3 separate regions of the Homo sapiens genome follow, and all the other regions are linked to region 2. A link means that fine-mapping ties the variant in region 2 to the expression of a gene that starts in the linked region. Tissue or cell type: thyroid. Region 2 holds a variant in brackets; each other region holds the start of a gene. All regions are shown on one strand. Distances are between the middles of the regions. Region 1 holds the start of LINC02827 (long intergenic non-protein coding RNA 2827). Region 2 overlaps LINC02827 (long intergenic non-protein coding RNA 2827). Region 3 holds the start of LINC02417 (long intergenic non-protein coding RNA 2417).

What was found. PIP is the estimated chance that this variant, and not a neighbour inherited with it, causes the effect.
Region 1: it holds the start of LINC02827, and the variant in region 2 is fine-mapped to the expression of LINC02827 in thyroid (GTEx, PIP 0.96).
Region 3: it holds the start of LINC02417, and the variant in region 2 is fine-mapped to the expression of LINC02417 in thyroid (GTEx, PIP 0.97).

What each region holds. Positions count from the first base shown.
Region 1 is chr12:3,294,691-3,304,644 of GRCh38, forward strand. LINC02827 (long intergenic non-protein coding RNA 2827) reads left to right here and starts at 5,673. Exons shown (of 5, transcript NR_187483.1): 1 at 5,673-5,723; 2 at 8,415-8,579. LOC100128253 (a long non-coding RNA gene) reads right to left here. Exons shown (of 12, transcript NR_148995.1): 6 at 9,092-9,247; 7 at 8,647-8,713; 8 at 6,156-6,302; 9 at 5,892-6,024; 10 at 5,291-5,751; 11 at 4,628-4,846; 12 at 3,824-3,961. RefSeq lists an enhancer at 5,253-5,472 and a silencer at 6,073-6,367.
Region 2 is chr12:3,323,379-3,333,332 of GRCh38, forward strand. It overlaps LINC02827 (long intergenic non-protein coding RNA 2827), which reads left to right. Exons shown (of 5, transcript NR_187483.1): 5 at 1-9,954. All of the region lies in intron 1 of LOC100128253 (a long non-coding RNA gene), which reads right to left. It also overlaps the pseudogene LOC100418939. Among named protein-coding and RNA genes, the nearest start is that of LINC02827, 28 kb to the left of the region's middle. RefSeq lists an enhancer at 3,171-3,670. The variant T/C (reference allele first, on the strand shown) is at 4,215.
Region 3 is chr12:3,362,330-3,372,283 of GRCh38, forward strand. It overlaps LINC02417 (long intergenic non-protein coding RNA 2417), which reads left to right and starts at 5,779. Exons shown (of 3, transcript NR_146865.1): 1 at 5,779-5,795; 2 at 5,936-6,096; 3 at 8,956-9,272. It overlaps LOC100128253 (a long non-coding RNA gene), which reads right to left and starts at 3,793. Exons shown (of 12, transcript NR_148995.1): 1 at 3,730-3,793. RefSeq lists enhancers at 2,741-3,293, 3,294-3,844.

The DNA of each region.
Region 1 (9,954 bases), 29 kb before region 2:
CCCCTGCTCCAGGGGGGCCCGGCTGTCAGCCTGAAATAAGCTAGGCTTCTGCACCACGCACATGTGCAGGGCAGCTGGCACCTGGCCCAGATGCCAGATTCCGTTCAACCTGGTGGGAGGGGGTGCCGAAGCTGCTGCTATCGGATGGTGCCCTGAGGGACACTTTGTTTCTGAACCTCAGCCTGAGCACTTGTTACAGAGATGGAGAACCATGGGACGCGGAGGACAGGGGGCTCCCAGCTCAGCTTTGCTTCTTTCTACCCGGCTGGGGTGGCAAGACAACAGCCATTATTGCTGACCAGCAAGCCTCTTAACCCTGCTGAGCCTCAATTTCCTCACCTGTAAAATGGGGGAAATACCTTTTTGTTGGAGTAACTGCAAGCGAATGTACTGACGGCAAGTAGCACGTTCTAAGTGCACAGCAGGCCCTCAGTAAGTACAAGGCATTCGCCAGACACCCCGCAGGTGGCCCTGCCTGGAGGGCTCCCGGGGTTGAGGCTAGACTGTCGGGGAGTGTGGCGGGGGAAAGAGAGGAATGGGCACACACACTTCATCCCCTCCCCCAAGGCCAGGTTCCATCCCTGTCCACTCCCTGCCTCCCACCAACACTCGTCATGCGGGGGACACAGGGACGGACGTACCCTTCTGTCTTGGTGTCCGCCCCTTGGGGAATGGTGGCATGGCGTGTGCAGGGTGTGGACGTGCTGGCCTGAGCTGTGTGGGATCCCAGTACCTGTTGCTTCTCTGCCCAGGCCCTGGTGGGCAGGAGGCTTTTGCCCTATACAGGACTGGTGATGACTTTCCACAGGCATGTCCTCTCTCTCCAAGGAACTCAAGACTGCTGGCCTCCAAGCAGGGGCCCGGGAGGACCTGCCCTGGGCATCCATCTCCACCCTGGGCAGCAGGAGGGCTACACCCAGCTGGGGCTGCATCCTGGGCTCTGGACTCCAGCCATTGTGCATTCCTAGGCAGAACCTGCCCTGTCTTGGGCCTCTGTTTCCTCCAACCCTGTCTCATCTCCCAGGCTGCTGGCCTGGACATGGAGGTCGTATTTCCAAGAAGCTCTGGGCTGTCCTACCACTTTCTGCAGCTTGGACCAGCCAATCTCCCCAACGGAAATCTGGGCTGGACAACCGCCAGTGCAGGAATCACAGCTAATCCTGCCTCCAGTCAGGCTGGCCCAACCCAACACATGGGGCTGGGGCCGACGGGGCAGGCTCTCCTGGGCTGCCACCTTTGTCTCCCATCCCTGCCAGGGCAGACAGGTCAAACCATAGCCCTCCTACCCACTGCTGCCTCTCTTGGTGCCCCACCAGGAAGAACAAGACCCTGGCCCAGCACGCTCCCTCTTTCTCAGCCCTCAGTCTGTAGGTCTTGTCAGTTGATATGCAGCACTTCAGAGCTCTGGGGAGTCACGATCAGTTTTCGATGATCTGCACGAAGCCCAGCTTGGAGGGCAGCAAGGATAATCACGTCACACTGTTTCTCTTGGCCGTGGAGCAGTCATTTCTGGGAAAGCTGGTTTTCCTTTTAATGAGTTCACATTGGCCACCCCAGGCCTTTCTAGGCAGAGGAGATAAACCAGCCCAGCCTCTCGGTAGCCCCTGGAGAATCCTCACAGTAGAGGCGGCAATCTGCCCCGAGAGGCTGGCTTTCTCTCTGTCCACGTGGGCACTTCCCGCTCTGAGGATACAGTTTCTGGACAGTTTAGGGCTGTGTTTGTGACCACAGTGAGGGGCCTTCAGGTCACTCCTGTGTACGGGAGCAAGCACACCCCTCCTCAGGGCCAGCCCAGGTCAGCAAGGGCTGTGCTCAGCAGGCTGGGAGCTGGAACATGTGGAGAGACCAGGTGTGACCTCTCCCAGCCTCGGCCTTCGCATCACAAGGCGCTGTGCTTTAGGGGGAAGAGGGCCCACCTCTGGGGAGAAGTGCAGGACCTGGGAGGTATGGAGGCCAGGCGTGGGGTTCCCGTGTTATGCTCAAGGTGCCCACTTGTAATAGCCATTTAGGGGGGTACCTATGGTTGTCGCAAAAGTTGATACCTACCCTTCATGAGACTGCCAGCATGAATACTCTGTATTTCATAGGATTTCCTCTCTGTTCTCCCTTAGTATTTGGGAAAGTTCTTCCTGAAAACTCCCTGCCTAATTCAAGACAGATGCAAGACAGGACCAAAGGAAGGGACTCTATCCAGCCTGGGACGGGCGGAAAAAGGGAAGGAGAGCGAGACCCTCTGGAAGCAACACGGTGGTGGCCCCAGGGTTGGGGAGAGGGGCCCCAGGAAAAGTGAGGTTCGGGCAGATCCCCTGTATTCAGAGCTGCCCCTTCTCAGCCCTCCAACTCTGCAGGGCCTGTGATTTAGTCCACGCTGGGATGAGTTTTACACCCACCAACATTAAGAGCTGAAGATAGTTTTGAAACCAGGCATGCCTCAGCTGGGCGAAGTGGCTCACATCTGTAACCCCAGTACTATAGGAGGCCAGGGTGGGAGGATGGCTTGAGCCCAGGAATTTGAGGCCAGCCTGGGCAACATAGGGAGACCCCATCTCTACAAAAAGTTTAAAAAATTAGCCAGGTGTGGTGGTGCCTGCCTATCATCCCAGCTGGTCAGCAGGCTGAGCTGGGAGGATCGCTTGAGCCTGGGAGGTCAAGGCTGCAGTGAGCCCTGGTCACGCCACTACCCTCCAGCCTGGATGACAGAGCAAGACCCTGCCTCAAAAACAAAAACAAAAAACCCACTGGCATTCCTGAGAATCAGGCCCCAGACCAGGAGATCCCCGAGGGGCATATTACTATAGAGGCCGGGGCTTGGAGCCAGGGTCTCCCAGAGGGGTTTCTCTTGGGAAAGCCACTAGGCAGGGTGCAGGGCTCTGCTCCTGGTGCAGCATGTGCTAGTGTGGCCAGCATACCCCACATCCCTGCCCTGGCAGCTCCACCCAGCCTGTGACTGCCCTGCCTCTGGCCTCCCCACCTCCAGGCCCTGCAGGAAGGAGTGAGGCCAGCAGGACACGGCTTTCCAGGTGAGGCAGTGTGGGGAGTAGGCAGGTTGAAGGGCTAGCTAGGTCATCTAGGGGAAGAGCCACTCCTACCTGTCCCACCCCATGCATTTCCCAGAGGGGACAGCAAAGCGAGGGCTTCTGAGCACTGGTGGGGATCCTGCCCAGAATGCAGGCATCCCAGGGGACCCGGGTTTTCAGCCTTGTCCCAGGTTTGGGAGCTGGGAGGGAGCAGAGGGCCCAAATATCACCCTCCTGTGGTCCCCGGCACCCCCGTGCCTGGTGAGGGTCCTTCTCCTGCCAAGGCTCTGGCTGTGAGGGCTCAGAAATGGAGGGGAGGGGGCTGAGGGTCCCCGCCTAGGTGGGGAGCCATGGTCTAAGGCACTTGGTGCATTTGCAGGGGCTGGACACAGAGGAGGGGGCATCTGTGGCCCTAGTGGAGCTGGTGCTAATGCTGCAGGCCTGGCAGGTGGATGTGGCGCCTGTCCTTCGAAGGGCAGTTGGCAGGGGACGCAGTTGACCATGAGTAAAAATGTCGCTGGAGCCTCGGTGCAAGCAGCAGATGAGACCCATCCTGCAGGTGGAGAGGGCAAAGGAGCAAAGAGAGATCAGAACTCCCTGAGGCTGTCAGCCATCAGGGCTCTGGAGCAGTGCTGCTCATGCCCAGTGCACATGTGAGTCCCCTGGGGCCTGGAGAAAGGGCAGCTTCCCGCTTAGGTTGGGGTGGGGCCTGCGGTTCCACACTTCTAACAAGCTCCCAGGTGATGCCCGTGAAAGTGGGGGAGCCGCACTCCAAGAACTACTGTCCAAGAGCAGGGTGTCACACACTTTAATGGACATAAACCACCCGGGGACCCCCTTATTACAAGTTTGCAGGCCTGGGTGGGGGCCTAAGGGTCTTCGTTCCTAACAAGCTCCCCGTCGATGCTGTGGGTCTGTGGTCCTAGGGCTTCTCCAGAAATGGCCTAGTTTAATGAGATCCCGAGTGAGTATTTCTGCTCCCTCATCAGAGCTGTCTGAAGCCGCCTTCTTCTCTGGGAAACGGCCTGTATTTTGCTGCCCTCAGACTCCGGAACAAAACTCAGGTCCGTTATGGATGCTCTGCCATGTGCAAGAGCCATGGGGGAAACGGAGACTCTGGGAGGAGCCCCTAGAGCTGTCATCAGCTCTGACAGTGAGCACAGAAGGCAGCGCCAAGCCCAGCCGCAGGAGTCCCGCCTGCCAGCCCCTCTGTCGGCAACCAGGGGCCGAACAGGAAGGGGCTGGAGCATCCTACCCAAAGCACGCGCAGGCTTGGGAAGGTCGCTGTCCGCCCCGTCTCACTTCCCATTTCTAAAACACAGAGGACCTTTATTCTCCCACCTTGCTCTTCATGGACACCCCCTGCCCCCCGCCACCTTCTTCTTCCTCTCCTCCCTCCCACTCAAGGATGCACTGGGATAATGTCATCATGATCCTGATAATGATGATGACCTGTTGTCAGGTCTCGACTCTGTCTGCAGGAGAGGGGCACTGGGCTAGAGCAGCCCCGTGAATGTCCCGTGCCACCTGGGGTGACAGTAGATTCCCCTAAGTATAGAAACAACACCCCGACTTTCCCCAATGTTTCCAGCTGCTGCTGCCGCCCTGACCTTGCGAATCTGGATGTAGAGGGCAGGCTGGTGGAGGTGCCTGTGGGCCGTACCCACTTGTCTCTCAGCAAGGCTAGTGAAGAAGGTAGCTTCTTCCCCTCCTCTCTCCTCTCCATCCCTCCAAACCTGGAGGGCAGCAGGGAGTGTGACCACTGCCTTCAGCTTGGAGACTCGGTGCTGAGGGCTCTGTTAATCCACCTCGGGGCCTCAGGGTCACAGCTGAAATGTGGCTTAGGAGGTTATTTCATGTCCCACCAGCTTAAGCAAGTGGCTGTCACAGCCCCTCCACCCACGTAGGTGTTATGCGGCATGCCCTCTTCCCCTGTCCCCACCTCATGGGTTGATGATTTTCCTGTGCACTTTCTGGATCTTTCTGATCCATGCTAAGGGGGAGGCCAGAAGGGAGCTGTTAGGCCAGCACAGATTTGTGCTGTAAGCAAAATTCACGTCTCGTACAGTGTACATCTGATGCTGGGGGAGGACAGGAGGAGCTAGGCTCTCAAGAGACACACTTCTGCATGAGATGTGTGTTCCCAGGGTGCTCCCAGGAGAGGTCCAATAAGGGTGGAGGTGTATGGGCCAGACTCATCAATGTGGGTCCACATGCACACACACACGCGCACACCCCCACCCTGAATCGTGCAGAGGGCACAGGATACTGACCCGCCGGATCCCTGAGTAAGCATCAGCATCTCTCTCCTGACAGAAGACGCGAAGAAACCAGCACGGAATGGCTCCAGGCAGCCAGCAGGGGGCGAGCAGAGACAAGACAGGACAAGTTCCCTGCAGGTGCCGGAGAAGGCCAACCGGGTTGGGCCGGGCCCTGGGGCCCAGCTGCATGGTGTCTGGTGCTTTTTTTCGGCAGCTGCCTGGGTGTGGCACTCGGCCACACGTGGGACATTTTTTTTTTAACAGGGAAGTCGTCATGCCTTCAGCTTCTTATGAGGTTTCTGAGTCAGCTCCTGGCTGTCATCAGAGAACACGAAGGAGGGGCCAGGGAAGTTCCAGGAAGTCATTCCAAAGTGATTGCTTGGTTTCCCTTTTCACGACCTGCAGATCCCAACACTCCAGGATGGTGCAGGACATCAGTCTCAAGGTAATTGGTCACAGAGGTGAGAACCTTACTGAAAAATCAGAATGTGAACCCTGGAAGGTTCCTGAAAGATGAGCTAGACGGTTTTGAAACTGTATTGGGAATCCCAAGTGTAGCTCAAGGCTACTGGTCTTCGAGGTACCAGGCTGGGTATGTCGGGGAGGTAGGTGCCTGGTGTCTGCCTGCTGGCGACGATGACTGCGAGCCCTTTCTCAAGACTTCGGCCCACCTGGGTCTTGGGCAATGTAGTGCCCAGCATCGGCCGCGAGAGGGAGCTCTAACCTGAGACTTGGCGGCCGCAGGGCTGGCTCAGTGGACCGCAGGGGAGAAAACAGGGCAAGGGGTTGAGCGCCATCAGGAGCCATTCCACAGTGACCATGGAGGAGCAGAGACTGCATGGTGGGGGTTGTGAGTGGGGAGAAAGCGTCCACTCACCTGAAAGCCCAACGACCTGGTCTCCTCGGCATCAGACTTACACAGCAGTTCCATCCACCTTGACCTTAGGGCTCAGGGCATCTGCAGCCCTACTGCCGGCCCTCGGCCTCACTGCCCTCATCTGGCAGCTTCTATGTGCTCTCGGGGCTGGAGAGGTCAGGAAGAAATAGACAGAGTGGGCCAGGCTTGGTCGGAGTCCATACAGAGCAGGCCCCCTCTGCACGGGGAGTCACAGATTTCTGGAAACCTCAGCTGAGCCTGGTGCAGTGGCACAGAGCAGCCCTGCCCCAGTTCCCAGTGGTGACTCCTCTGGGGTTCAGCACATGGGACAGAAGACCTGCCCTGGGGAGGTGCAAAAGAGCGGCAATGCTAACGCCACCTGGGCTCCCTGGCCCTGCAGGTGAGTGAGGATGAAGGGGAGCAGGCTGGTCTGGCCAGGGAGAAACTGGGGCTTTTTTTTTTTTTTTTTTTTTTTTGAGAGACAGTGTGCCCTTGCAGAGAGAATACAAATGATGGTGTCACATGTTGAGCACCTGCTATCTGCTCAGCAGTGAGCCAGACACTTCCATGGGTGTTGCTAATTCCCATCACCAGCTACCAGATGAGGTCCGGTCAGCCCCATTTCACAAATCAGTGACTGAGGCTCAGAGATGAAATAAATGGCCCTAGGTCACACAACTTGCAGGTGGCAGAACCAAGGTGAGTGTCCCTCCAAAGGCTAGAGACCCTCCTCCCAGCATGTTAGGCTGTAGCTGGACCCTCCAGGCCCACAGACCATGTGGGTAGCTGGCACCATCATCTGAAAGGACCCTATGCTGGGAGTCTCTCCAAGCCAGCCAAGGCCACCATCCCTTGCTTCTCTTTCCCACAGACCTCTGAGTCGGGGTAGGGAGTTTGCGAAAGCGAAGGGCCAATATCAGGAGATCGGGGCGCCATTTCAGGGGGTGAGACCCTGGGCAAGTTGCCTCTCTGGGTCTCAACTTTCTGATCTGTAAAGTGAGAACGCTACTCGTTGTCTGGCCTGGGTCTCAGGTTGTTGTATGGACCCAGTGAGAGGAAGTATCGGAAATCCTCTGAAGTCTGCGGACAGCTGGATAAAGGCTTACGGAGGCTTTCATTTGTGCCATGTGCTGTAAGTGGGTCACAGGCATCACCTTATTCTTATTTAGACCTTAGGAGGTTGAAGAAATTATTCACATTTTGCAGATGAAGGGTTGAGGGATAGGGAAGTTAAGTAGCTCGAGGTCACACAGGAGCAAAGCCAGGACTGGACTCAGGTCTTCTGAGGCCTAAGCACTACTCTTCCTCTTCCCTAGACGGTGCTCATAGCACTGGACGGGGAAGGGCTGGGTAGGACAGCAGGACTGCTGGGCCCCTTCTAGAAGGACAGCCTACACTTGCGGGGGCTCTCACCTCTGAGGATTCCTTCCTGGCTCCCCTCCCTTGGACCCTTGACTACAGCAGCCTGAGAGAGTGACCTTGACTTCCTGGGTGGCAGCAGGGGGACTGGGTGGAAGGGAGAAATGGGAGCCAAGGGCATTGCTTATCCTCAGGGAGAGAGCTGGATGTACACAGGGGAATGTGTGTGCACAAGCACACGCACACGCACGCGCACGCACACACACGCACACGCGCACTTATATACAGTTGTTCTGGATTCCAAAATCCACTGATGCTCAAGTCCCTGATATAAAATGGTGCAGTATTTGCATGTGACGTCTGCACATCCTCCCACATTCTTTAAATCATCTCTAGATTACTTGTAATTCCTAATACAATCCACATGCTATGTAAATCGTTGTCACGCTGTATTGTTTAGGGGGTAATGACAAGGATGTTCAGTGCAGACATAACCATCCTTTTTGTTAGTACTTTTATTCCATGGTTGGTTGAATCCAAGGATACAGAACCTGTGGATATGGAGGGCTGATGGTACACACACACACACACACCCACACACACACACACACACACCCACAGACACAGACACACACACACAGACACAGACGCAGACACACACAGGAATGAATGCAGATATGTACACACTCACACATGCACAAGCACCCTAAACACACACAGTGCATACCACCCCACCCACATAGACCCGGGAACATGGGGACCCCCACGGACCCACACACACCACGGCAGGCTTGCACACTGACCCCCACATGCACACACTCAAGGTGCATGCCCGTACCTGAGCCCACATCCACACTCCTCCCAGGCCCCTGTTCCTGACAAGTTAATGTTGTCCCTCAGGCATCTTCCTTCATGTTCTCTGGGGGAGAGACTGACTGTGGGAATCAGCCTTGGTTGCAAAGGGAAGCTGAGAGAAGAGAGCAGCGCAGGGCACGGACATGCCAGCCCAGTTACTGGAGATATCTGCCGCTGGAGACGGGTTCAGAGCCTAGTTTAATATCCCGAGTGAGTATTTCCTCCTAATCTCCCAACTGCAACATACCTTCCTCCTAATCTCCCAACTGCAACTCACCTCCAGGCAGGCCACCCTGATGCCCATCGCCCCCATGAGTAGCAGGTAGCTTGGTGAGGCAGCCTCCCTGCAAGGGAAGGGCAGGTGTCATGGCTTTGGCTCAGAAGCAGGCACAGGTGGGGAGGAAGGGCTGGCCGTCCCGGTGCATATGGCAGAGGCAGAGGGTGGACCAGAGGACTCATGGGCTGGACCTGGCCTTGAGTGGCTCACAGGTTTCGTGGGTGGCCCCAGGAGCATGCCATGGTGCCCTGGACTCTCTCAGCAGGAGCTGCTTGTCCCAGGGCTTTGTAGAGCGTCTGAGGGGCCTGGCACTGTGGGCTCATGGCCAAGAATCATGTGTGCTCTGCTATTCCCACACCCATCTGCCTGACCCCAGCCCTTTGGGGGCTCCTGGAGGCCAGGCTGGGGCCCTTTCCTTGTCCCCAGCTTGCGCTGGGGCACTTACCACCCCCTTGCAGATGTTGGAGGGGTGGGCCGGCTGGCTGCAGAGCGCCACCACTGCCTTGCAGCCGCTGTCGGGCACTGGTGGCTCTCACCTCCCACGACAGCAGGTACGTGCTGCGCTGCCAGTCGCTGAGCTATTGCATCCGTAGCACTTGAACTGCAGGGGGAGGCAGAGGCTGGAGGTGAGAAGCCTGTGTGGGGTTCCAGGGCCGACGACACAGGATTCAAATACCCAACCCCTCTTTGCTCTCCCTGCGATTTCTGCCTTCCCTGTTTGAGCAGAGAGCTGGTCTCTGGGGGCCAGCACTGCCCGCAGGACACCTATCTGCTACCTGCAGTCACCCAGGTCCTTTAAGGAGATTATGCTGGGTGTCCTGGGGGCAGGGTAGGTCTGTGAGGTGGGCAAGATGGAGGGGGGGGTCCCCAGAGAGGGGGGCTGTGTACTGCTGCCTGACAGAACGCAGGCTGGTGACAAGCCACAAGGGGCAAGGAGGCCCTGGTCATCCAGGAGGCAGGACACGGGGACAGGGACCAGCCTTGCCAGGGGTTCCCAGGTGAAACCTCAGAGCCCCAGACATGCAGGGACACAAAGGGTGTCCCAGAGTCCACGGTGTGGGCAGGTCAGTGTTGGCCAGAGGGGCCGGTGTGAATGCTGAGTGAGGCCCGGGGTCGTCGGCACCACTCCAGGGCAGGAAAGTGCCAGCCAGGGTGGAAAGCAATTCAAAGGCAGCGGACTCAGGCCACTTCCTGCCCTTCTGAGTCAGGGCCCTGAGACTCCAAGTCCCTACACGGGCCACAGAACACAGCGGCTGGGAGGCTGTCTCTGGTGTGGGAATGGGGCTGGGTGGGCGGAGCGGTATTAGT
Region 2 (9,954 bases):
ACCATGACGAGAGTACCCGCTCAGATGAGGATGCAGGCGGAGGCGGTGAAGGTGCTGGAGGCCAGGATGCTGAGGTAGCTGCTCCTCTCCACCAGGGTCCAGATGCCCATGGCCAGGACAGCTGCCCCCCTGACCTGCAGGAGACCACCAGGTTGGAGCAGGGGGTGGCGGGGGCCTCAGGAGCTGCCATTCCTTGAGTGCCCGCTGGGTACCAGGCACTTCTCGTGCATTGTCTTATTCAATTTAGGCCTCCTAAGAGCCTGTGAGAACAGTGTGGTGGCCTAGCTTTACAGATGAGGAAACGGAGGCTGAGAGAGGTTTGCAGGCTTGTCCAAGGTCACACATGTAAGCGAGCTGCAGATTTTGAATCTGGGTCTGACTTCTGATTCTGTGCATCTTACTATGGTTCCTACTGCATATGAGGCGGGGAGAAATGACTTCAGTTTTGGGGATGACTAATATACCTGAGTCCCTTCGCCTCCCCTCCCCTCAGAGCGCTCCCTCCCTCTGTCCACGTTTCCCTGATGGATGTGGAGGTGCCATTTTGAGCACCTCCCCTTGTTCAATCCTTATATTTGCCCATTGGGGAAGCACGGCTGGGCCCCTTATCCCTCCCTGTTCTACAGAGGAAGGAACTGAGGCCCATGGAGGAGAGGTAAATGGCCCGAGTTAGGGGCAGGGCCAGGACCAGGACTCAGAGCCCAGGGCCTGCTTGCTCAGTCTCGCTGCCTCCATGATGGAAGGGCCACTGTGCTGGACAAGTTGGAGCTCCCTGGGACCACAGGAGGAGGGAGGAGAGCCTTCTTTGCTGTCTGACTCCCTTTCAGTCCTGAGAGGGGGCAGGGACGGGACACTGCTGATTTGCAGGTCTGGGGGATGCCTTCTTGGAAATAGAGTACCTGGGAAATGTAGCTGGGGTGGTGGGGCTTGACTGTTCTTTCCTGCCATGAAGCTGAGGAGCCTTTTAGTGACTGTTATCCTCAGCAGAGCATAGTGGGTGGGTGCAAGTGTCCTCAAGGTGCCAGATGGGGGCTGTTTGGAGTGTTTTCCCAGGATTTGGGTCCTCTGGGACCTCTGACCATCTCTGTCATTTGCTCCTGGGAAGGTGGACTTCTGTCTCCCAGTCTCTCTGCCCGCCATTTAGGGACGGGTCCATTTCCTCTGATGGTCAGTAGATGCTTCCTCAAGGGGTCTTGGGTGTAGCCAAAGCTAGAGAAGCCCTCCCGGGCTCTGTTCACATCCCCTGATGCTTTTCCCTGCAAGTTGTCTCCCGTCTGCCCCAGGAAGACTCTCTGTATAACCTAACCTGTCACTTCCCAGTTCTCTGTTCCGGGGAGTCGCAGACCTTGGCTGAGTAAATGGAAGGTGGTTCTTAGCAATGAACAGGCACCTACATTACTCAACTCGCAAGTATTTTACCATTTTGCCATTTTCTCTTCTGAGCTTTGCAACAGCTCTGTGAGGATGGGGCCGGGCAGGAGGGGCCAGGCTATCCCTGTCTTGCAGATAAGAAAATTGAGGCTTGGAGAGAATAAGAATGTGCCCAAGATGACACCATCAGAGGGTCAGAATTGAGGTGCAAACCCAGTTATTTGAGGGCAAATCCAGGCCTCTGTCCTTGGATCCCCCAGAGTAGGCTGGGCCTGCTTCTCTCTTACTTCTACGTTTTTAATAGACATGATTTCTTCAAAGTGCCATTTTATCTCCATAGGTACCTCCAGACACCACCCAGGCTGCAGCAAATGGAATGGGAGAGGCTAACACACCATAATTTTTCAATTCCATGATGCCCATTTTTTCTCACATTTTAACGTCTCTAAAATTGGGGCACATCTTATGATTGATGGCATCTTACAATTACACTTGGCAGTACTTTTTCTTGGTGATACAAAAAAACAACAGTGTATCTTACAACTGATAGCTTAGATTCAGTGAAATCCTAGAATACAACAGGTTTGAAAATTCTCTGTGGGTGAGTGTTATCTGTGGCCCATACAACCTCCATGACCAGTGAGGGATTTCCTGAGTCTGGGTTCCAGCAAAATATCCTGGACAGAATTCTTTTTGACCCTCTACAGCATGCCTGGAAGGCTTGGGCACGGGTCCCAACTGTGTATAACTAGCTCCGTGACCTAAAGAGAGTCCCTGAACCTCTCCAGACCTCAGTTTCTTCACCTCTCGAAGAAGGGAGTGAGTTATATTAGACCAGTAGTTCCCAGCCTGTAACTACCAAGGACCGTTTGATTATTTTTTCCCATGGGTTTTATGTTTTGAGGGCTTTTGCCTATCAACGTGCATTAATTAAGTAATAATTCACTTCTCATTTTTTATTAATCAAAGGCACATATAGTGCCAGGAAGAGATTCTGAACAGCATGAGACAGTCAACTTGACCACACTGAGTTGATCTAACTCCAGCAAAAGGCCAAGAATCTTGGCTTTTCATGAGAATAGCCTCTTTATAGAAATATGCACATTATCTGTGATCTGTTAGGCTTCTTAAGCCTGTCCCTCAAACCAGAGTGGGGGCTGAGCATATGGCTCTGGGGCCACCAAAAGACATATGTTTGGACTGGTCTGGGGACCATCTGTTGGGAGACACAGAACCTCACTGAAAGCCTGATGAAAAGCTTTGCATCCTTTGCCCAGAGAAATGGTCATTCACACAAAACAATACCCTTGGGGCCAGGGGCTGAAGTCTATTTTGCACTACCTAATGACCTGTGGCCTTTATGGTCTGTAGGCCTCCTGCACCCCTATGGTGCCCTAAGACCTGGCTGTACAATCACCTGGGGAGCTTTGAAAAACCCAGGCCCCCCTGCAGGCCCATCCGTGTCTGTGGGAGTGGGACCCAGCCATGAATTTTTTATGAAGTTCCTGGGTGATCCCAGCTGAGAACCATTGCCCAGAATTAACGAATGGGGTCCAGGTGTCCTGCCCTCCTCTTCCCAGTTGGTGACGCTGTGCTGAGCCTCGCAGAACACAGCGGCTTCCCGGTCGCTCAGTCCCAGGAGGGGCCCCTTGAAGCTCCAGGTTCCCTCCCCTGGGAGGAGTTGCCTGGAGGGCTACTGAGATTTGTTCAGGACCTGAACCCCATCCTTTCCTTCCGTGTGTTTGTTAGGGTGTTTGCTTTGGCAGAAGCTTTAAGGTAGAAAGTGGGGTAATCCTGAGGAACAGAATTTTCATCTAAAGGGGCAAAAATCAGATTATGCAAGAAAGGAAAAAACCATGGCTCCCAGGGGAGTCGGAGGCTATGAGAAATGCAGCCCCGGAGAGGAGCAGTGTGGATCTGGCCGACGGAGGCCTGCTCTCTGCCAGGGCACCTGCAGGCCACACAAATGGGGCTGGGATCTTGCAAAGCTTGCAAAGTGACGCCGGATCCTGGGCCACGGGGCAGGGTCTGGAAGGGGTCTGGAGGGACACATTTCCCTGATTCAGGTCTAGAGAACAACAAATCCACATGCATTGCTGTCCAGAAGAAATCAGGAGATGAGTCTGGGTCAACGGGGCCTGGTTATACTTAGCCAGGGGTCTGCAGGAGCCAGAGTGCTGCAAGTCCTCCGGGAAGCTCCTGCCGGGGACGTGGTCAGCTCTTTAGAAAGCAAGCTTTCCTCTGAGCAAGGGAAGGAAAACTGCTCACTGTTGGAATGGGTCACCAGAGGGTGCCACGGGAGGGCGGAAGTCAGCAGGTCTGCATGCCAGTCCTGGCCGTGCCCTTGACTGGGTATGTGACTGTGGACAGACAGTTGGCCTCTCAAAGCCTTAGTTTCTTCATCTGCAAATTGGGGGCACTGGATGGGAATATCTCTGAGGTCCCTTCCACATGGTTAAACTGTCCCTGTTAGTATTGGGCAACAGTGTTCTGCCAAGACACCACCAGCAAGATGCTTCTGGACCAGCGGCTCATGGCTGTCACTCAAACCACTTGGAAACTGCCCAGTTCAACAGAAAGCAGTGGAAGACTGGTGGGGCAGGGAGAGCGCTGACCCCAGTGAGCGGTTTTAACAACCATTGGCGTAGAGTTGATTCAACAGTATTTGGCTCTTTGTAGAAACTGGGTTGGTTTTCTGTGGAGTATTAACTGCATTTCTCAAAACCATAGCCTGTGGCCGATTAGCCAGCAAACCCTGCATAGGGTGAAGTCAGGCAATGAGGACGTGAGCAGACCAGTAAGGGCAGAGCAGGTCACCCATGCCGTGTAATTTTAGGAACTTC[T/C]CATTTATAGGAGAGAAACATTGCCAAAGTGTGGCCCACGTCATCATGGGGAGAAGCGTTAGCTTGAACTGCCACACATGCCTGGGGCTGGATAGAAATAAGGCAGCAGGCTTGAAGGAAAGCAGGCAGTGGCGTAACAGTAAATGTAGGATTTTTCTTTGTCCTGCTAGCTAGGGCTTCTGTGTTGACAGCTGGGGGGAGGATGGGGTGGGGCAGGAGCCAGGACCATGGGACGCCCAGTAAAGAAGGATCCCCCGGGCAGGGGAGTTCTCTACCTTCGGTGCTGGGGTTGGGTGGGGGAGCCCATGGCATGGGAGGCAGAAATGCACTGGCTGACAGTATAGTTCATTTGTTTGATGTTTGCTACTAGGAACCAAGCATCACGCTGGACTGAAAAGGTTTTTGGCCTGGACAGGAGTTCCCCCACTGGGAACCACACACATCATCCGTGTCTCTCCTTCCAGGTCGGTCTGGTCAATGGCACCATCACCCACCCACCCTAGACCAGACTAGACACCTCAGGGTCATTATTGACTCCTTCCTCTCCGCTCAATGACAGCCAGTTCTCCTCTGCTCTCAAACCTGTCTCCATCTCCCCACCGTCAGCTCCCAGCTCCTGCTCTACCTGCAGGCTGGCAGGCTGTGCCCCAAGGCACTCCCTGCTGAGCAATCCCCACAGGCTCCAACAGCCAGAGCCCCAAGCCCAGACTCTTTTGCATGGCCTCAGGGCTCTTACGTGTCTGGCCTTAACCTATTTTTGGCTTTATCTTCTGCTACTTTCCTTCCTCCGTACCTGGGCTTTAATCACCATGAACAAAGTAGTTGCTTTTCTTGTAAACATTGTAGATACCCATTAACTATGGCAGCAATAGTAGAGTGGTAAAGAGGGTGAACTCTGGGGTGAAGTACCGGTGTCCGAGTCCAAGCCCCTCTGTTTACGGCTGTGTGGATTTGGATAGGTTACCAAACTCTGGGCCTCTGAGAGGCTCTCTCCTGTCCCTTCCCAACCTGCTCACATTGTTCTCTTTGCCGTTCCTTTTCCACTGAATTCCTACTCACCCATGAAGCCCCATCTCCAGTGCGGCACCTGCTCTGACTCTGCTGGGCAGGTGAGCTTGTCCCTCTCGTGCACACCTGTGGCACTGCTCCCCTCACAGCAGCCCTCGGCCCGGGGGTGGGAGACTCCCCCGACTCCCCTCAGAACCCCGGGCCCAGCAAACCACCTGGCACCTGGCAGCCGCCCACATGAGCATGGGACTCCACGAACGGGGCTTTGTAGGGGGCTTTGGAAATAGCGGCATCTGCTCCCCTCACCCGTCTGTCTGCTGAGCTCCTGAGGCAACAACGAGTATCCCCCTTCCCTGTTTTATGGCCGTTTTTATTTTTGGAGGGGCAGTCTGCAAAGTGCCAGCAGTCCCCGAGGGCAATGGACTTTCCTCCAGGTCATTAGGAAGAAGCCCCTGGAAAGGATCTTCATGCCAGACCAATGCTTGGCTATTCTCGTTCTTTCTTTCAACCCACACCCACTGTGCACTTGCTATGAGGACGCCAGGCTCTCAGGCCATAGTGGGGTCCACACCTGTCACTTCACCTGCCCTCATGTCGCAGGCCAGTGACTAGATGGGAAGGCCCAGCAATCACCAGGGTGATTTCCATTAGAAAGAGAGGAGAATGGGTCTAATTTCAGGGAGGGGGGCTGGCAAACACAGCCTGGGGGCTCAGGAGAGGACTGGGAGGCCATGTCTGAGCAAGGCTCGGTTGCTTGTAAAGAATGGTACCCCGTTCCCACATCAGAAGAGTCAGCTGAACCCCGGGCTGCAGTCCCAATAGTGCACTGCTGAGCCTGGCGCTCACCTGCAGGGTAGATGGCACCTCAGTGCCACACCTGAGCCTCTGAGCTCTCCAGGAGGGCATAGGCAGGCATGTATCAGGCACCACTGCTCACCCTGCTCGTGAGTGACGTTTTTCTGAGCACCAGGCAAGCACTTCTCCCCGGCTCTGTCCATGCTGCCATTGCCTTGGTTTGACTGAATCTTCAAGGACAGGCTTGTCATGCTAAGGGCCATTTTCCACTTTGAGGCATTCTTTTCTTGGTTCTCTGGTTTTAAAGAGCACTTGATAAAATAAATCAGAGCACTGCTTCCCCCTCTGTCTTCCCCATCCCATCTACCCTTATAACAAGAGCAGAATCTCATGGGGCATACCGAGGGGTGGAGCTGGAAAGGAACATAAAATCACCTTCCAAACCCAGCTCAGTATCCAAGGGAAACCTTCCTTGGAGCTGTCTCTCCCCACTCCTCAGCAAACCATTCTGTCCTCTGTACCAGCTCCATGTCTTGCCCATGTTTTTGTAATTATACTCATCACTGCCTATTTGTTTTATTTGCTACCTTGTGTGTCCTCTTTTAGCCTCTTGATAAAACCTTATTCATCTTGGTGTCTCCAATGGAGTCCTACATGTGGGAGGGAAGAAAGAAGGAAGAAAGGAAGGGAGGGAGGAAGGAAGGGAGGAGGGAATCGAGTTCAACCCCTTTTATATTCTGGAGGGAGAAACTAAGGCCCAGAGAAAAGTGACTTTTCCACAGTCACACAACTAGCCAGGGGAAGCATGGAGCTAGAACTCAAGAATCCTAATGCTCAGTTTAGTGTCCATTTTACCAATTGGGCTGCTGACCCACACGAAGCTGCTTGGCCCAGGAAGCAAGTTGTGCGGTGCCTGGGCTACAGTAGATCTAGAGTCCCTGAGCTGCAGATGGGCAGCTAGGAGGGGTGACCACAGCTTCATCCTGACTTGTCTCACTCACCATGGCCCCGAGCAGACCAAATGCACATCCCTCTTGATATGGTTTGGCTGTGTCCCCACCCAAATCTCATCTTGAATTGTAGTTCCCATAATCCCCACATGTCGTGGGTGGGACCTGGTGGGAGGTAATTGAATCATGGGGGCGGGTCCCCCATGCTGTTCTCATGAGTGAGTTCTCATGAGATCTGATGGTTTTGTAAGGGGCTTTCCCCCCTTTGCTTGGCACTTCTCTCTCTCCTGCCACCTTGTTTGCTTCCCCTTCCACCATGATTGTAAGTTTCCTGAGGCCTCACCAGCCATGCTGAACCATGAGTCAGTTAAACCTCTCTCCTTTATAAATAACCCAGTCTTGTGTATTTCTTCATAGCAGCATGAGAATGGACTAATACACCCCTCAGCCATGGCCCTGTCCCCCAGCAGATCCTGACAGCCAAGAGGGGTAGAGGTGCCCCGAAAGCCGTGGGGAGTCCCATGCCATTCAGCATCTCAAGAAGCGGTGCAGCAGAGAAACCAGCTACGAGGTCCCTCACCTGTTTTTCCTCAAATGGCAAGCCCAGGAAGGGGGCAGAGGCCACGTTCAGTGGGGTGATGCTGTCCGAGGTGAAGGGCTTTCTAGCTCTGGCAAAGAGGTGAGCAGAAGGCCCCACCAGGGCCTCCCTAGATCCTGAAGTGATGCTCCCAAGCCACCTCATTCCCCTGCCAGGCTCGGTCCTCCATCTTCTCTGCCACCTGTCTTGGTCCCATGCCTCCTTTAAGGGCTCCCAAGCTTCCCTGTAGGCTGAGCCCTCCTGGCGGCCTGGGAAGGAGCAAGGTCTCCGCTTCAGGAGCAGAGGCAGCCTCTCCAGTCACGGAGTGCTTCCCATTGCCTGGCAGAGCTCCTGGGAGGCTGGAAAAGTTTTGATTATGAACACAGCCAAGCAGCTAATTAAAATAATAAATTAGAGAAAAACATTGCAGGGGTAATGGTAGCTGCAGGGAGCCGTGGAGGAAAAGGGAGGGGAAAGAAACACATCTTCTAGGTGGCCGCCTAGGAAAGCCTGGGCCACATTTTCTTTTTAGGGCCATGAAAGAGGCATGAAAGTGTGGCATTTTGGTTCCTCCTCTGCTCAGCAGGATCATCCCATAATGATTATGGCTTAACTGAAACCCTAGGTGGGGTGGGGCGGTGGGAGTCAGAGATAGGGTGACGGGGAAGAATTGCCACCTGAATCCTGCTTCGTGTTTTGCAAACTTTGGAATGTGACCCATTTGGGTGATAAAATAAATTTAGTGGGTTGTAACCTGCACTAAAAAAAGTGAGCTAAAATAGTAGAGAAAATATCAGCATGCATCTGTATTAGGATTTTCTAGATGGGTAGAACTAATAGAATCTACGTATATATGAAAGGGTGTTTATTAAGGAGAATCGACTCACAGGATCACAAGGTAAAGTCCCACAATAGGTCGTCTGCAAGTTGAGGAGCAAGGAAGCCAGTGGTGGATCAGTCCGAGTCCCGAAACCTCAAAAGTAGGGAAGCCGACATTGCAGACTTCAGGCTGTGTCCAAAGGCCCAAAAGCCCCTGGCAAACTACTGGTGTAAGTCCAAGTGTCCAAAAGCTGAAGAACTTGGAGTCTCATGTTCGAGGGCAGGAAGCATCCAGCATGGAAGAAAGATGAAGGCCAGAAGACTCAGCAAGTCAAGTCCTTCCATGTTCTTCTGCCTGTTTTATTCTAGCCATGTTGGCTGCTGATTAGACGGTGCCCACCCACATTGAGGGTGGGTCTGCCTGCCCCAGTCCACTGACTCAAATGTTAATCTCCTTTGGCAACACCCTCACAGACGCACCCAGGAAAAATACTTCACATCCTTCAATCCAATCAAGTTGACACTCAGTGTTAACCATCACAGCATCATATACCGTAAGGGTAAGTTTAGTTTTCTGAATGTTTCGTGTGAGCATTTCTTATGCTTCCATGCATATCATGAGTCACCATCAGAAAAGTCTCAAAGTCAGCACTATGGACAGAGAAAGTCATTAAAGAGACCAGGCATGCCCATCAGTCTAATCATAATAGTTATGCATAATAGCTAAGCACTGAGTATGTGGCACAAATTGTGCTATTTTTCTAAATAGTAACCTCTAATTCTTACAGGTATTGGTATTCTCATGTAGCATATGAAAAAACTGAGGCTCAGTGAGATTAAGTGATTTGCCTAATGTCTTAGTTCAAGCTGCTGTAACAAAATGCCACAGTCTGGGTGGCTTAAACACCAGAAATTAATTGTCTCACAGTTCTGCAGGCTGGGAAGTCCAAGATCAAGGTGATCTGTTCTGGGTGGGGCTCTCTTCCTGGCTGGCCAATGGCCGCCTTCTTGCGGTGTTCTCACCTGGTGCTTGTCTATGGAGAAAAAGAGAGCTCTCCCTCTCTTCCTGTTCTTAGAAGACCATCAATCCTAGCAGAACAGAGCCATGCCCCTATGGACTCATTTAGCCTTACTTACCTCCCTGTCTCCAAATACAGGCACATTGCTGGTTAGGGCTTCAACATATAACTTTTGGGGGACACAATTCAATCTGTAGCACCCAATGTCCCAGGGCAAATAAATAATGGAGTCTGAATTTGAATCCAAACTTGAGTCTGAGCCTTCCCAGCATGCTGTGCTGCCTCGTTAATTCATGAATGCCCCGAGGACACTAGGAAAGTGTGCAATTTAGAGCTGGGGCTGCAAAGCGTGGTGACCAAGCACACAGGCCTGGGGCCAGGCAGCACTGGGCTACAGCTCCGGGACAAGGCACAGTGCTTCCCATTCCTAAAGCAGGGCTCTAAGAGAGCCATTCACAGCTTCAGGCAGGGCTGGGAGGATTAATGGGATGATGCACCTGCAAGGACAAGCACAGAGGCCCACCATAGTGAGTTCCAGGAACGCTGGGAACTTTGTTTACTGATAGACCCTA
Region 3 (9,954 bases), 39 kb after region 2:
TGCTCCTCGCATGGGGCTTAGAAAAGGGAGAGGTAATGGCCAGGCGCGGTGGCTCACGCCTGTAATCCCAGCACTTTGGGAGGCCTAGACGGGTGGCTCACAAGGTCAGGAGATCGAGACCATCCTGGCTAACATGGTGAAACCCCGTCTCTACTAAAAAAATACAAATAAATTAGCCGGGCGTGGTGGCGGGCACCTGTAGTCCCAGCTACTCGGGAGGCTGAGGCAGGAGAATGGCGTGAACCCGGGAGGTGGAGTTTGCAGTGAGCCGAGGTCACACCACTGCACTCCAGCCTGGGCGACAGAGTGAGACTCTGTCAAAAAAAAAAAAAAGAAAAGAAGAAAAGGGAGAGGTAATCTAGGTTCTGTGCCCCAAACCTGGGCACAGTGTTGGACACAGCAGTTGCCCTACCATTTCCAAGTGTATTTATAGAAAAAAACAGCACGAGACAATGTTTTACATGGAGACGAGCTTGGAAACCCTAGGATGCATGGCTGCTGTAAATACAGGCCAAGGCTGGTGCACCACGTGGCTGTCCTGCAGGCTCAGCACTCGCCCAGAGAGCAGAGCTCCCCTGCACTGCCAACTACTCAAGCAAGACAATGCTGAGTGGGCATCTCCTGGGGATGAGGCACATCTGGGCAGGCTGCCTGGGAACATACCCAACAGAGGACGACGACAAACACAGTCACCTTAAATAAGGAGCTATCAAATATCCATGTGTGGTTTCTCCACCTTGCAGATGTTTTGTGTTTTTTCCCTGTCCAGGGCCTGTCTCTCCCATGGATCAGAGTTCCCACATAGCCCTTGCTACCGTATTGTATGCAAAATCGTTTTCATATTAACTCCAACCAAAAATTCAGGAAATTAAATCAGTTGCATAAAAATTGCTGTGGATCAATGCCATGGCCAAACCGAAATGAGCCGAGGAACAACCACTCTGTGTGCGTGAATCCTGCCTGTGACCCTCACAGAAGGCCAAGTGTGCATTACTTCCAGGTGCCGTACAACTGTTTCAACTTGGAGCTGAAAAGATGAAAAGACCCCTTGAAGTCTTCTGGTGCAATGGCTTTCTAGTTTTATTTTAGTGGGAGAACACTTTCTTCAAAGGAAATCCTACCTGGAAGCCGGCATGTAACTTAGATGAACCCCAAGCTGCTGGTGTGAGGGATCCAGGGCCATGGGGCTTGCTCTCCCCGTCCAAAGCTCCTAGGAGCACAGTTTGAAAAACAGGCATGCATCATCCCCAGCCCCTTGTTAACCTCTTTGTTCACTCATTCACACAACCATATTTCTTGAGCACCTACTGTGTCTAGGTGCTGGTGAGCCAGCAGGTGACAGGACAAACGCAGTCTCCGCTTTCATTAAGCTCACACTGTAGTAGGACGTGGCAAAGGGAAGTTCAGAAAGGGTGGCCCGTGCCACAGAGGAAACAGATCACGGAAGTGATGTGAACGTGACGAGGAGGTGGCCACTTTAGATGGGGATAAGGACAGGCCTCTCTGAGGAAGTGAAACACAAGCTGAGATCAGAATGACAATCTGGAAAGATGCCCTGTTTTGGACCAATGAGGAAGCAGACCCAGTGAGGCAAAGCAACCTTCCCCAGGACATGGCGGGCAGGGGCACAGCTGGGACCTGACTTGGGTTTCCAGCATCCTCCACCCAGGGCTCTTCGCTTTCACAGACATTACTAAACAGCTACCACATACAAAGATGTCTCAGTGGGCCCTGTGCAATGGTTCACACCTGTAATCCCAGCACTTTGGAAGGCTGAGGGAGGTGGATCGCCCGAGGTCAAGAGTTAGAGACCAGCCTGGCCAACATGGTGAAACTCTTTCTCTACTAAAAATACAAAAAGTAGCCAGGTGTGGTGGCGGGCGCCTGTAATCCCACTCCATCTCAAAAAAAAAAAAAAAATTATCAGTGACAGGTGACATCCAAGGGCAGATAAACCACCAAACCATGTCCTGCTGTTTGGTGCTGTCTGGCGTGACTCTTCCCTCCCCTCCCCTCCCCTCCTCAGCTGGGGCCAGGGCTGGCTCTGGATCTGAAGGCTCTATACCGCAAAAGACAGAGGCCTGCAGTTGACACCCTAGATCTGTGACCTTGGCTGGGAACGCTTCTTCATCTCCTATCTCTCCGGCTGCAAACAGGAGGGTGTTCCTTACTGCTTCATTTGGCATAAAGGTAAAAGCAAGATGGTGGGCATAAGCCCACTGGTTCATCTGGAGGATGGCTCTCTGGAAAGGCAAAGTGCTCCAGGGCGATTTAAAGACAGCAAAGCCAGTTTTCCTCCTGTGCTATAGAAGGCATTCATACAAGAACTATAAGAAACTACACAGGTCTATACATATTTTACACGCAAGAGTCAGACACTCCTGCTGTGCTGAATATGACAGGAAGCAGCCTGCAAATGGCTCGCCTACTATCCACAAACCAAACAGCTCCAGGCCACCCAAGCACTCCCCAGACCACCAATTCTGCACCTGTGGCCCAGCAGTGCCCCTGGCCCTGGGAACCTTACTGCTGCCAAAGCACTTTCAGGCATTGACCAATGGGAGCTTCCAGCCTCCTTGGGAGATAAGCCAGTGATTATCAGTCCCATTTTGCACACAGAGTAACTGAGCCCCAGACGACCTTTCCAGGCAACAAAGCGAATGACACAGTGACAACCACTAAGTTCCAATTCAAATCCAGGTCTCCAGACTCCAGCTGCTGCTTTCCACTACAAGCTGCCCCCAAATCGAACACACCCTGGCCTAATACCACCCTCATTCTCCTGCCACCCCACCCTCCGCCTGCATACACCCGATGCCCCAGAGTGCACTTAGGACTTTTTTCAGAAGCCGCCTCTTCTCACAACCCCACCTCAGAATACTTGCCACACACTGCAGACCCCTGGGACACTATTCCTGTACACACAGCAGCTGAGACCTATGTTAAGATGCTGTCCGGCCGAACCCAATTGAGCCGCCTCCCTTTCACACTTTCCAGCCAATGCACACGTTAACACTGCACATATCGCCTAGGAAAGCTATACACCCCAAAACCTCCAGACCCTCCTCCTTTCATAGGAGCCAGCCAGCTGCATGTGCAGGGATGGGCACACAAACAGGTGACAGGGCCTGCATAATCATGTTGCCACAAATGCACAGACGTGCCCAGGGAACACAGGACCTCCCTGTACAGGCAGCCTGACCCACTGGGAACAACGTGCACCACACACAGCAGGTGCCTGCATTTAGCAGACTCTGTGTTGCGTGGGGCAGGCAGCCACGACCTGTCCACATCTAGCTAAGCCGAGTTTGAGCCTGTCGGCTATGCTTGTGCACAAGAGGCAGCTACTGGAATTCAGGGTGGGCGAAGAGAGTGACATTTTGAAGAGGGACAGCCATGTCCCGGGAGGGCACACGGCCCCCAGAGGCCCAGAGCTCTTCCCAAGGCACAAGTGCAGAAGGCGGACTCAGGCGTGTGGTTAAGGACCCCCTGCTGCGGGCCCCTGCACACACCAACGCGTGCTCCCACGCGCCGCGACTCCCCCGGGATGCCTGCCCCACCCCTATCCGCAGCCAGCGTCCCCCTGCCCGCCGGCCCCGCCACGGTCCATCAGGGACTGCGGGCGGCGGAGGTGGCGGCGCCTTGCCGGGACCCCCAGCCTCCCTCCCCCGCCCCCGGCGCCCCACCCCACGCGGGCGCGCTTCTCCCGCCGCAGCCGCCCGCGCTCACCTGGCCCGGACACGGGCTCCGCCACGCGGTGATGGAAGCTGAGCCTAGAGAGGCGGAGAGCGGCGGCTCGCAGGGCCACCCAGCGGCACACGGCCCGCGCCTCGGCCCGCCCCTTCCTTGCCGGCCGGGGGAGTGTCCGCGCGCCTCCAGCCCGCCCCGCGCCCCGCTGCGGTGCCCAGTGCCCGCCGTCCTCACCTGGCCAGCGGGACGCGCCCGGGAACCCCGCACGCGGGCGGGCCGCCTCTTTGTTAGCAAGTTTGCCTTTCTGTGATTCAGAGCACGCGGAGCGAATTAAGTGGAGTGAGGGGTACTGTGCGACTGTCTGCGGGAAACCTGCGGGGAGCGCGGGAAGGGATGGACTTGATGAGCCGCGGCGCAGCGGCTTTCAAACCTCCCCGCGCTCCGCAGCCCCCAGCCCCCGCCCTACCCGCCCTCTCAGATCCCTCTGTCTCCTGCCTAGGTCGGCCCCTGGGAGAGGTTGGCTCCTGGGGGTTCCCAGGGACTTTAGGGACAAGGTTTGATGACATAGAGCTTCCCCACGCCCCCTTCCTCCCCTCCCCTCATCCTCCGCCCCGCGACTCCCATCACTGCCCTGTCCCTCTCAGGGTCCTGGGGACCATCGGCCCTGCATTCCCTGGGCTCAGGGAGAATCAAGATTCTTCCTAATCTGGAGCAAAAAGAGTAGACGGTAGGGCCCAGCTGTCCCTGCCTGCACCCAGTGGAGGTGCAAAGCTGTCCCTAAGTGGGTCTGTCCTAGCAGTGGGGCGTGCATTGTGGGTTATTTCCCAGAGCAACGGTGGCCTTGTGCTTATCCAACCATGTTCTTTTGAAACTTGACTGCAGCGAGCCGGGTTATCCATATACCAGGTTGCTAGGTCAGGGAGGCCGCTACTGGGGGGCAGGGAACGCGAAGCACGCCACTGTGCCCCAGAGCACCAGTGCTCTCAATGCCGCAGCTGACCGCTGGGAAAGGCTTCGCACAGGGCCATGCGGGAAGGAGATGACAGCCACAGTCCCCTGAGATGAAGACCTGAATGCAGAAGCTGCCGCGAAGGAGTCCCCAGAGCTTGCTGTGCGCGGTGCAGGAGGAGGAGTGTGCTGGGGGTGAGGGGGTAAAAACCTGAAGTCTGGAGGAGACCTGGAGTGATGTGAGGTTGAGTTTCGTGTGGGGCAAGCCGGGTTTGAGAAGCAGGCCACCTTCTTCCAGGGGCACACATCCAGCAAATGCAGTGGGAATGACCTGTGGTTCTTAGGAGAGAGGCTGAGGCAAGAGATGCGATTTTTGGAATCATCTGGAAAGAAGTTGGGCTGACAAGAGAAGAAATGGAGCGAGAGGGTAGAAAAGATAGAGAGAACAGGGCTGAAGACAGAAGCTGTCTAAGGAGGGGAAGGAGCCCATGAGAGAAACAATGTGGGAGGGTCGGGACTGTGCAGAGTGAAAGAACTCAGGAGAAGAGGGATGTTCAGTGGGGGCCTGGGCTACAGAGACACCAGGAAGGAGGTGCCCAAGAAAACAGGTTTAGATTTGGAAATCAGGAGATCTCTGGGGGCTTTCAAGAGAATTATTTGAGTGGTGGGTTGTGTAGACAAGATTGCCACTCCTTGGGGGGCATCAGGATCCTGGATCCAGTTGGTTGATCCAGGGACACAAAGGTTCATTTCTTTGATTTCCTTCACGGGGACTCCGAAGGGCCTCCCCAGAGCCACAGCTTCCAGAGGGATCTGACGAGGCCTCTGTGGAAAGCAACGCAGTTCAAGTTCAGTCTCTGCCTAATCCTGTTTTCCTCACTCTCTCAAGGTGAGTGAGGTCTATGGGGGTAAGCCCCCCCGCCTCCCCGTAGACCTCCTGGAATGCCTGGAACAGCTCAGCAACCTGGGCACAGGTGGCTTGAGACAACCTAGCCATTCGGGCCTGCTGCCAGAGTGAACGCCACAGGGAGGCCTGCCGGGTCTGGGGAGCATGAGCTGGTCAGGCCCCCAGTAGACCCCTTGCAGGCTGATCTCCATCTCCATGCAGAGTCTGTATCCTAGAAATCCAACCTGAGATCCTGCGGCACCGAGAAAGGGTGAGTGAAACAGAGAAAAGGTGGGATGGAGGGAAGAACAGAGGTGGGAACCACTCAGCAGGAGCAAGAAGGGGTGATGGTGGGAGACAGGCAGGAAGGAGTAGGCGTGTGATTTGATGCCTCTCCCCTCCACCTCCAAGGAAGCTGTTTCAAGAGATAGGAATTGTCAGAAAAAGCCGGAGAAGGTGGTGTTAAAGGAAAACATTGAGAATGGGGAGTGAAGACGAGGGTTTTTCGTAGCAGAAGATGGATCTTCGAAAGCCAGGAGGCAGAGGAGAGCAACGCTGTCGGTGAGATAAAGGTGAAGGGAAGCTGATATTCCCTGAAGTTAGTAATATTAAAACAGTACTGAAGAAAGAGAAAGTTGGAAAATGGTCTAGAGGGACCTTTTAGCAACATGAGAGGGCGAGGGATGAATGGAGCTCTGGACCAGGATATTCCCTCTGCAGCACCATCCCTGGGAACGTCAGACGTCTGGGGTAGTGAACCAACAAAAATAGAATATGCAATTAACAATTTCCCAGGAATCATGTTTACACACGTAAAAAAAAAGAGAAATAGGTGAAAGTAATTTCAATGATGTATTTTATTTAACACAATATATTTTAGATATGTTTTAAATAAAATATATCATTAAAATTGATGTGTCAATATACAAAATTAATAATGAGCCGTACATTTTTTTCCTTCTAAGTCTTCCAACTCTGGTGTGTATTTTACCTGTATTGCACATCTAAGTTCAGACACTAAATTTTCTTTGGAAATACCCGATCTGTACTTAGATTTCATAACATTGATGGTTGAAGAAGCTCATTTACAAACCTAAATTGCCCCATATATACCTATGCTTTCTAATAACAGAATAAAATGATCAGTCTTTAAGTTAATTAAAATGAAATGAAATAAAAAACCCCGCTCTTCAGTTGCATGGAGCACCTCTCCAGTGTTCAGTGGCCCCACATGTGGCTAGTGGCTACTAGATCGGACCACACAGGTCTAGAATTGGAATTCTGAGACTTTTGGATTTTGGCTTTTATTTTGTCCTGATTTTCTGTGAAGGAATGGGCTTGCCTGCCCCCAGTGCTGTACCACTAAAAAGATCCTCATCTGTTCCATCTCATTTCACAAAACTCACTTGAAGAAGACGAGGGAGAAGTCTGAGAGTCCATCTATGAATAGGGAAATGGGGCTTTGGCTTGGACTAGAAATGGTATGAAGGAGATGAGATATGAGTTGGAAGTATCCCGTTTTGATTTTTGTTCTATGTTCATAAGAGGAACGAGGTTTATTTGTCAGGTTGGGTGCCCCAAAGAGCGAACCGAGAGTGCGCTGTGATAATGCACGGGGCAACTCTTTCTTGCACAAACTCTCATCTTAGTAGTTTCCGTTGAGCTCTGGGCACTGGCTGCGTCACAAACAGGTGGACGCAGCTGCTATATCTAGGCCTCATTTTCTGCATCTGCAAACTGGGAGAGTAGTTCCTTATTTGGAAAAATAGGAGGGACCAGGGAAATCCCAGATTTGGAGACGGGTGCCTCTCAGCCAGGCCTGTAGCTCATCTGCTGTCCCTAGCTGGGTGCCAGCAGCTTCTGCATTCAGTCCACAGTCTGGTACCATTTGCCTGCCTTTATATCTGATGGGAGAGATCTGTCATGGGATGCAGGAGTGAGGGACGTTCTAGATACTCCTTTAGAAATGTAAAAATAATAATACTTAGGCATCCTTGCTTTTATCTGAAATGGCCTACATCTCTTGCTACTTGGAGGTTCAGGATAGATCTTGTGAGACCTCCTGCATGCCAGCACAGGGCCTGATAGCCTTACCATGCAGCAGCAGTATCTATAACCATCCCTAGAAGTGGAGTCACAGAAAATACCATGGTAATTGTGGCTTTGTTTTGAGGATGGTTACCACACACACACACACACACACACACACACACACACGTGCATGGCATGGAGGAGCCTGACCTGTTATTGTTGGCATCCCCAGGATACATGGCACATTAGCTTAGTGTTCAGGTTGTACATAAACCCTCAAGGTCAGGAGCTGTAACACTTGGATTTCTCCGTCCCCTGGGCATAAGCCTGTCTTTCAAAACAATTTCTGGCCACTGCCTAGAAGAGTTGCAAGATAACAAAATTTCCCTTGACAACCTCTACTCCTGCCTCCCTGACATCCCTGCTTGGTTAAGCTGCTGTCCTGATGTGGCCTTAATAAAAGTACTCTGTGTATAGACTCTTGACAGAGCCATTCCTGGGAAAAACAGCTCCGTTCTTGGAGACAGGAAACAATGCCCTCAGCATACAGATCAGAGACAGCTTGTCTGACTTGGCCCGCTTCCCCATCTTTAAAATGGGGAGGTCTTCCTGCCTCGGCTTACCAAAGCGCTGGGATTACACATGAGCCATGTGCCCAGGAGAGTCGCTTGAGCCCAGGAGTTCGACACCAGGCGGGGAAACACAGGGAGACCTCGTCTTTACCAAAACCAAATATATACATAAAATAAAATAAAGTAAAATACAATAAAATACAATAAAAAATGGGGAGAAACTCCTCCTAGGATTCTTTTTACAGTCTTAGAGAATGGAAACTGGCCTTGGTTTCTTCATCCATGTGAAAAATAGAGCTAAAAAGCCTCTCGTCAGCACCTTTCTCTCTTCTAGCAGGACTGAGGAATGACCAGAGGTTAAATGTTGATGAGCTGAATTAGCTTCAGTTCAATCTGCATTTGACTAGGAACTTGATGACTGAGGCTGCTCATTTTTGCAACAATACCTGGGGTAGAGAAATGACTGTAGAATTGAACCTCACAATCTCAGGTGTAATTCCCATGAGAAAGATATTACACCAGAAATAGGAGGTTTCCAGCTGTTCTCAGGCATGCTTTCAATGACACTAAGAACATCAGTTGCACTAATTGGTGCTTGAAATAATTATTGATCTTCATCAGGAGTGTCAAAAGCATTGCTCAAATGTCCAACTGCTTGTCATGCTCTCTTGGCATTCTACGCGAAGGACTTCACAGACTGTTTCTTTCCCAGGAGAGCATTAGCTAAGGCAAAACATAGAAAAACACATCTAGGATACAGATAACATAAGTACAGACAGCTGAGCAAATATATAAATAACACCCGAAATGACACTTAAATATTTACAGCTGGAGATTTCTGCTACGTGCAGCACATACTGCTAATCCTCTCTCATCTCCAGGAAGTTTTCAAAAACCTGCTTCTGTAACTAGTGGACAGGTCTTCTGGATCCAAGGTCACCTGCTGGGGAGAAAGAGAAGCCTTTGGATAAACATCACAAGTTTTCCTGGAACATGGATTTTATTTAAGATTTTTTGGAAAGAAGGGAATAAGGTTTTTACCTTTGTAATGTTTTTACAAATATTTTCAAAAGTGTAACATGTATATGTGCTCATTTTAGAAAATTTGATCAGTATAAAATATTAAAGAAGAAAGTAAAAGCTCATTTGGAATCTTATCTGTTGGAAGGAATCACTGTCTTGCTATATGTTGGTGAATATCCTTTTGATGATGTGTATGTGTGTCAGTGTGTGTTTGTAACTTGAATTTTTAAAGTTTGAGAATATATTCTAGTCGTCTTTTTATGTCAATGGATATAAGAATATATTACATCATTTTTGATGCAATATTTTGATATACCATGATTTGTTTAATCAATCCCCTATTAATGAATATTTAGGATGGTTTTAATTTTTAAAATATTTTACAATGTGGTTATGAAACATTCTTTCATATATATACTTGCCTACTTATTCAACTATTTCTTCAGGATACATTCAGAAACGGAGCCACAGAAAATATTTCTTTTGGTGGATGGACGCAAACACACACATACATATGTATAGGTGCATATGTACATACATTCACACATACATGCTACATACGTGTGTGCGTGTGTGTATATATACATAGAGGGAGAAAGAGAGAGAGGAGAGTCAGAAAATATATTTTAAACTTAAATATAGCCATTATCTCTTGAGAAGGGACTTGTATTGGGGATGTATTCAAAGAGGAATTTGACCACATTTGTAATGTTTAAGTTTTTTCACAAGTAGAAAATATATGTGTAACTTAAAGTTAGTCAAAATTAAAGGTAACACTAACAGAAAAGGACAAACTAAAATAGT